Regions from separate parts of the Homo sapiens genome. Here region 2 is linked to region 1. The links come from fine-mapping of genetic effects on gene expression. A gene starts in region 1. The other region holds a variant in brackets. All regions are shown on one strand. Distances are between the middles of the regions.

Region 1 (2,500 bases):
AGTTGAAATGAAAACTTTACTCACCAGATCCTCGAAGCTTCTTCGGTGCTCTTTCCCCTCCCAATCTAAGCGGCGCGGAATCAGCTGGGGGCCGGACGAAAAGAAAGGGGGAAGCGGAGGCAAATGATGAAGGAAAAGCCTCCGCTCCCCATCAACTGGACCCAACCTGTGTCCCAGTCCTCAACACTTTACCGTCTTTATTTCTCTCGGCCTGATAGCTATTGGCTCAGAGCTAGACAAGTATATGGGGGGGGGGGGGAAGGGGGGTCGAGAAGGAAATCCTGAAAAACTGCCTCCCACAAGCATAAAGCGGGGACGAGTTAAGACCCCAGCGTTGTCTGCCCCTTTTGAGGGAAGAAGCCAATTCACCCCGGTGACAACAGCTACGGGTACCCAGATCGAAGCCTCTATCCCAGCCCGTCTTCCGCCCCTGACTTGCCCTCCCCTTCCTCCAGTCTCACCTCAACCCTCCCCACCCTTCCCGAAGGGGCTCCGTACCTGATGCTCCTCGAGCTCCTGCACTAGCACCTGAGCAAAAGGGAAACACAGATATGAGGAGCAGCTCGGGCCATCAACCCATTCCTCCCTCCACACTTAAAGCCCAGCCGCTGACCGTTTGACTAGTCAAGGCCGGCCTTTCCCTCACCCTCAACGGAACTGCTCGTCCCGCTGCCTCGATTTCCCCACTGGGACCATTCACCACGACTCCCAGATCTCTTTCTTCCCCTTACCTGAGCGGATTTGTTGCAGGGTCCAGACTGCAAGAACCTAGCGATCAGGTAATACAGCTCTGGGGAAGAGGGGGGAAAAGAGGTTCAGAGGGAGGTAGAGAAGAGAAATAGAAGCTTTTTCAAAAGAAACTGACAGCCTTCGCGCTAAGCCCCCATTCCCTTAGCACCCCCCCACCCCCCGACACAGCTACCCACCGGCTTCGATCTGGGTAGGTGCTGCCGCCATCCTTTTCCCGAGGGGGTTTGGGGGCTTCGCTCCGGAGGGGCTGGCGGGGGCGGGTGGGGGCGCTGCCTCTATTGTGGTGAAGCCCCCATGCCCGGGAGTCCCGCCGCTTCCGCCGCACTCCTCGTCCTAGTTTCGCTCTCTCTCGAATTCATCGCATCACGTTTCGACCCATAGATATTCTAGCCCAAGAGCTGAGGAGGCGGAGGAGGAAGGAGAGGAGAGGGAGAGGGAGAGAGAGAGTGAGTGAGTGAGAGAGAGAGAGAGAAGAGAGAGAGAGAGAGAGGAAAAAGAGAGAGAGAGAGAGAGAGAGAGAGAGAGAGAGAGAGAGAGAGACGCGGGGGGTGGGGGGGCGGAGAGAGAGAGAGAGAGAGAGATAGACGGAGCGAGAAGAGGGAGGAGCCGAAGTGGCGAAGAGGTGGGCGGGGGCAAAGGGGGTGGAGAGAGGGGAGGGTAAAAATGGTGATAGGGTTTTGCAGCGCTCATAGTTCCCCGCTAGAGGCACTAATACAGCAGCTGAGCCTAGACTCTCCCGGAGCCCGATGGTTGCTTAGCTACAGCTCTGGGAAGGAGGGGGAGGTGCTAACTGACGGCCGACGCTCTGGCAGCCGCCTTGGAACTCTGTGGTGGCATTCGCGTCTGCGAGCTCCGGAGTGACTTTCCCTTCCTGTGAAGGCAATCCGGCCCTTTCCGGTGGAGGACCCTTCCCCCTGGGTTGATCTTGAGGAACTTAAGAGACGGTGTTTTGACTCGACTCCTTTCCCCTTTTTCCTCCCGGTACCAAAGCGGTTTTGTTTGCTGTTTATACTCTACCCCGTGGAAAGGCGGCTAGCTGGCTAAAGGGTTTTATGCCTGGGGGAGGATGAGTCGCTATTTGGTCGTGACTTGTTTCTGTTTAAAATTATTATTATTTACCAAATGAAAATGTTGTACTTACCAGTCCAAAGTGCGGGGCTTATATTGTTAGAAGACCACTTAAAATGCTCCTGGATTCTGACAAATATTGCATGAGAAATTTGCAATCAGCCGTGAAGCATGTTTCCCCTTCTGAAAGTTTAACACGTGCCGTATCTACGGCTGGGATCTAACACATCCCATTCCTACAGGGTAATTTCCTATTGTGTTTTCAAATACTACTAAAGTACTTTAACCAAGAGTTTTCAATAATCTTTATGTATTATTGCCTATCTCTATGCAAGGTATCAATAGTTTTCTACAGGTTCGGGACTACACTGTTTAATATATAACCCCAACCCTTGGTACCGCACTGACCTTCAGTATTTGGTTGCTGAAATCTTCAATGATGAAAGGGGTTGGTATGATAATTGACACAGATTAGTAAACCGGGTCCTTTTCTTCCCTACTTTCCCGTAACATCCTGTCCCCACCCCACTCCCTCACCTAAACCTGATGAGACCAGAAATGCATTTTAAGTTGCATGTATTATTTACATTGAAATATTACAATTTGAAGGTTCATCTAAATTTAAGGCTATATTCTTGGGAATTGGGTTTCCTCACTCAGCTCTGCCACTGACCACAGTGGG
Region 2 (3,023 bases), 62 kb after region 1:
AAATTAAAATTGTTTTTTTCTATTTCTATGAAGAATGTCATTGGTGGTTTAAGAACTTGGCCAGGCATGGTGGCTCACGCCTGTAAATGCAGCACTTTGGGAGGTTGAGGCAGGTGGATCACCTGACATCAGGAGTTTGAGACCAACCTGACCAACATGGAGAAACCCCATCTCTACTAAAAATACAAAAATTAGCCAGGGGGTGGTGGCACATGCCTGTAATCCCAGCTACTCCAGAGGCTGAGGCAGGAGAATTGCTTGAACCTGGGAGGCGGAGGTTGCAGCGGAGGTTGCAGTGAGCGGAGATTGCGTCATTGCACTCCAGCCTGGGCAACAAGAGTGAAACTCCATCTCAAAAAAAAAAAAAAAAAAAAAAAAAGAACTTCTTGATTGTTGACCTAATTTTATTATTTACTCAAAAGTCATTCAGTGTCTTATATCCAATCATGTGATCAATTTTTGAATATGTGCCATGTGAGGATGAGAAGAATGTATATTCTGTTGTTTTTGGTTGGAGACTTCTTTAGGTGTCTATCAGATCCATTTGATCCAGTGCTGAGTTCAGGTCCTGAATATCTTTGTTAATTTTTTGCCTTAATCTGTCTAATACTGTAAGTGGGGGCATTGAAGTCTCCCACTATTATTTTGTGTGAATCTAAGTCTCTTTGTAGATCTCTAAAAACTTGTTCTATGAATCTGGGTGCTCCTGTGTTGGGTGCATAGAGATTTAGGATAGTTGGATCTTCTTGTTGAATTGAACCCTTTATAGGTAATGCCCTTCTTTGTTTTCTTTGGATCTTTGTTGGTTTAAACTCTGTTTTGTCTGAAATTGGGATTGCAACGCCTGCTTTTTTCTGTTTTCCATTTGCTTTATTTATTTATTTATAAACATTTATCCCACTCAGTGGCTACTGTCATGTTTCTTGATTCACTTAATTACACCTTTATATGTTTCAGTGAAATTTTCTTTACAAAGGTTCTGCATATTCCTTGTTAAAATTTTAATTCACTCAATAATGTTAATTCTTCTGGAATTCAGATAGATCAATGTTGTTTTGTACCCATTATATGCTAAGCATTGGCCTAGACGTTTGCATGTATTATTTATATTTCTCACAAGAATTCTGTGTAGTAGGCATTTATTATGCTCATTTTAGAGATAAGGAAATTAAGACTCCAAGAGATTTAATGGCTTGCCCAAGGCCTGGTAAATATCAGGGCTCTGTTAAGACCTCTGAAAGAGGTCTT[C/T]TTCTCTCACCAATTTATATTGTTTTAATTGGTTATTGCTAGGCACTAAGAAAGCTATTTAAAATATATATTTTTTATTCAATCACCTATCTACCTGTCTGTCTATATTATTTATGGCAGAAAAAAAAGAGGTTTTATTGTTTTCATTTGGTCGACCAACTAGGAGAGAGTTCTAGGGTGGTTAAAAATCTGTCTTACACTGGAGAAAGTGGCTTTGGCACAACCTCCAGTTCAGAAGGATCATGGGAAGGCTGTTGGGTGTCATAGGTCACTGGGCTTGGGAGAATCCAAGTTGTCAACAAGAAGTTTTTGACCAGCCAGGTCTGGGGCCTGCAAGCCTGTGGAGGTGGGTCAGGTAGTCATCCATCTTCTCAATGAGTTTCACCTCCTATTAGGAAGTGATATTCCAGGAACTCACACCAATGGGGGTCTCTGCTGCTCCAAACTCAGACTTAGCAGGCCTGGTTTAGGCTCTTTTTCAGGACCATGATGGCTTCCTTCGCAACCCCACTCATCTTGGGATGTCTTTTTCATATCCAGGCAGAGAGTTTGGCCACAGCATTGGTTTTTCATCTTTAAGAGATGCTCAGGCTGGGCATAGTGTGATCATGGCCCACTGCAACCTTGACCTCCAAGGCTCAAGCCATCCTCCAACCTCAGCATCCCGAGTAGCTGGGACTACAAATGTGCACCATCATGCCCCACTAATTTTTAAAGATTTTTTTAGAGGCAGTGTCTCACTATGTTGGTCAGGGTGGTCTTGAACTCCTGGGCTCAAACAATCCTCCTGACTTGGCCTCCGAAAGTATTAGGGTTACAGGTGTGAGCCACCATGCCCAGCCTATTGTTTTATATTTTAAATAATATAGCTAAAGTTAAATCACTAGTCCTCAAGTACCTACCCTTTCTTCAAAGTGCATTACAATACTAAAATCTTTCTACAAGTGTGTTTGATGTGAATTTCTTAGTTTGAGTAACCTTGCTTCCCACCTGAGCTAACATCATCAAATGCATTTTATGTGTATCCTTTGAAATTCTTTTTTTTTTTTTTTTTTTTTTGAGACGGAGTCTCGCTCTGTCGCCCAGGCCGGACTGCGGACTGCAGTGGCGCAATCTCGGCTCACTGCAAGCTCCGCTTCCCGGGTTCACGCCATTCTCCTGCCTCAGCCTCCCGAGTAGCTGGGACTACAGGCGCCCGCCACCGCGCCCGGCTAATTTTTTGTATTTTTAGTAGAGACGGGGTTTCACCTTGTTAGCCAGGATGGTCTCGATCTCCTGACCTCATGATCCACCCGCCTCGGCCTCCCAAAGTGCTGGGATTACAGGCGTGAGCCACCGCGCCCGGCCAGTCCTTTGAAATTCTGATGAGCTAATTAGTAATTTACTTCTCTCGAAATAGCCCTTTCCAGCATGATGCAGTAGAAAGAGTAATACTGTGAGGGTCAGGAAACTTTTGTTCTAATCCTGGCTCCTTCATTAATTGTACAACTGTGGAAAAATCACCAATTTCTTTAAGCTTTAAAAAAATATCTATACAGTGAGTGTACTCCTAGCTGTAAAATTCTGACTGTAATCTTTAGTTCCATCCCATTACTTCTTCCATTTAAATTTTCGATATCCATTCAATGAAGATGCAAGTCTCTTATTTCTGTTACCTCTTTCAAGATACAAATACTCATTCAACACATCCCCACTCCATTTTACTCTCAATTGTCCTATATTTTCTCTTTTTCTTCTTAGTAAGGTGCTTTATGAAGCCCCTGATTCTTTGTAGG

Evidence for each region.
Region 2: its variant is fine-mapped to the expression of BRWD3 in lung (TOPMed, PIP 0.99).

What each region holds. Positions count from the first base shown.
Region 1 is chrX:80,808,515-80,811,014 of GRCh38, forward strand. It overlaps BRWD3 (bromodomain and WD repeat domain containing 3), which reads right to left and starts at 1,363. Exons shown (of 41, transcript NM_153252.5): 1 at 927-1,363; 2 at 732-790; 3 at 499-528; 4 at 25-84. The coding sequence starts at 957. LOC124905202 (a long non-coding RNA gene) reads left to right here and starts at 294. Exons shown (of 2, transcript XR_007068278.1): 1 at 294-779. RefSeq lists an enhancer at 1,598-1,677.
Region 2 is chrX:80,869,856-80,872,878 of GRCh38, forward strand. No RefSeq gene overlaps it. Among named protein-coding and RNA genes, the nearest start is that of BRWD3, 61 kb to the left of the region's middle. The variant C/T (reference allele first, on the strand shown) is at 1,249.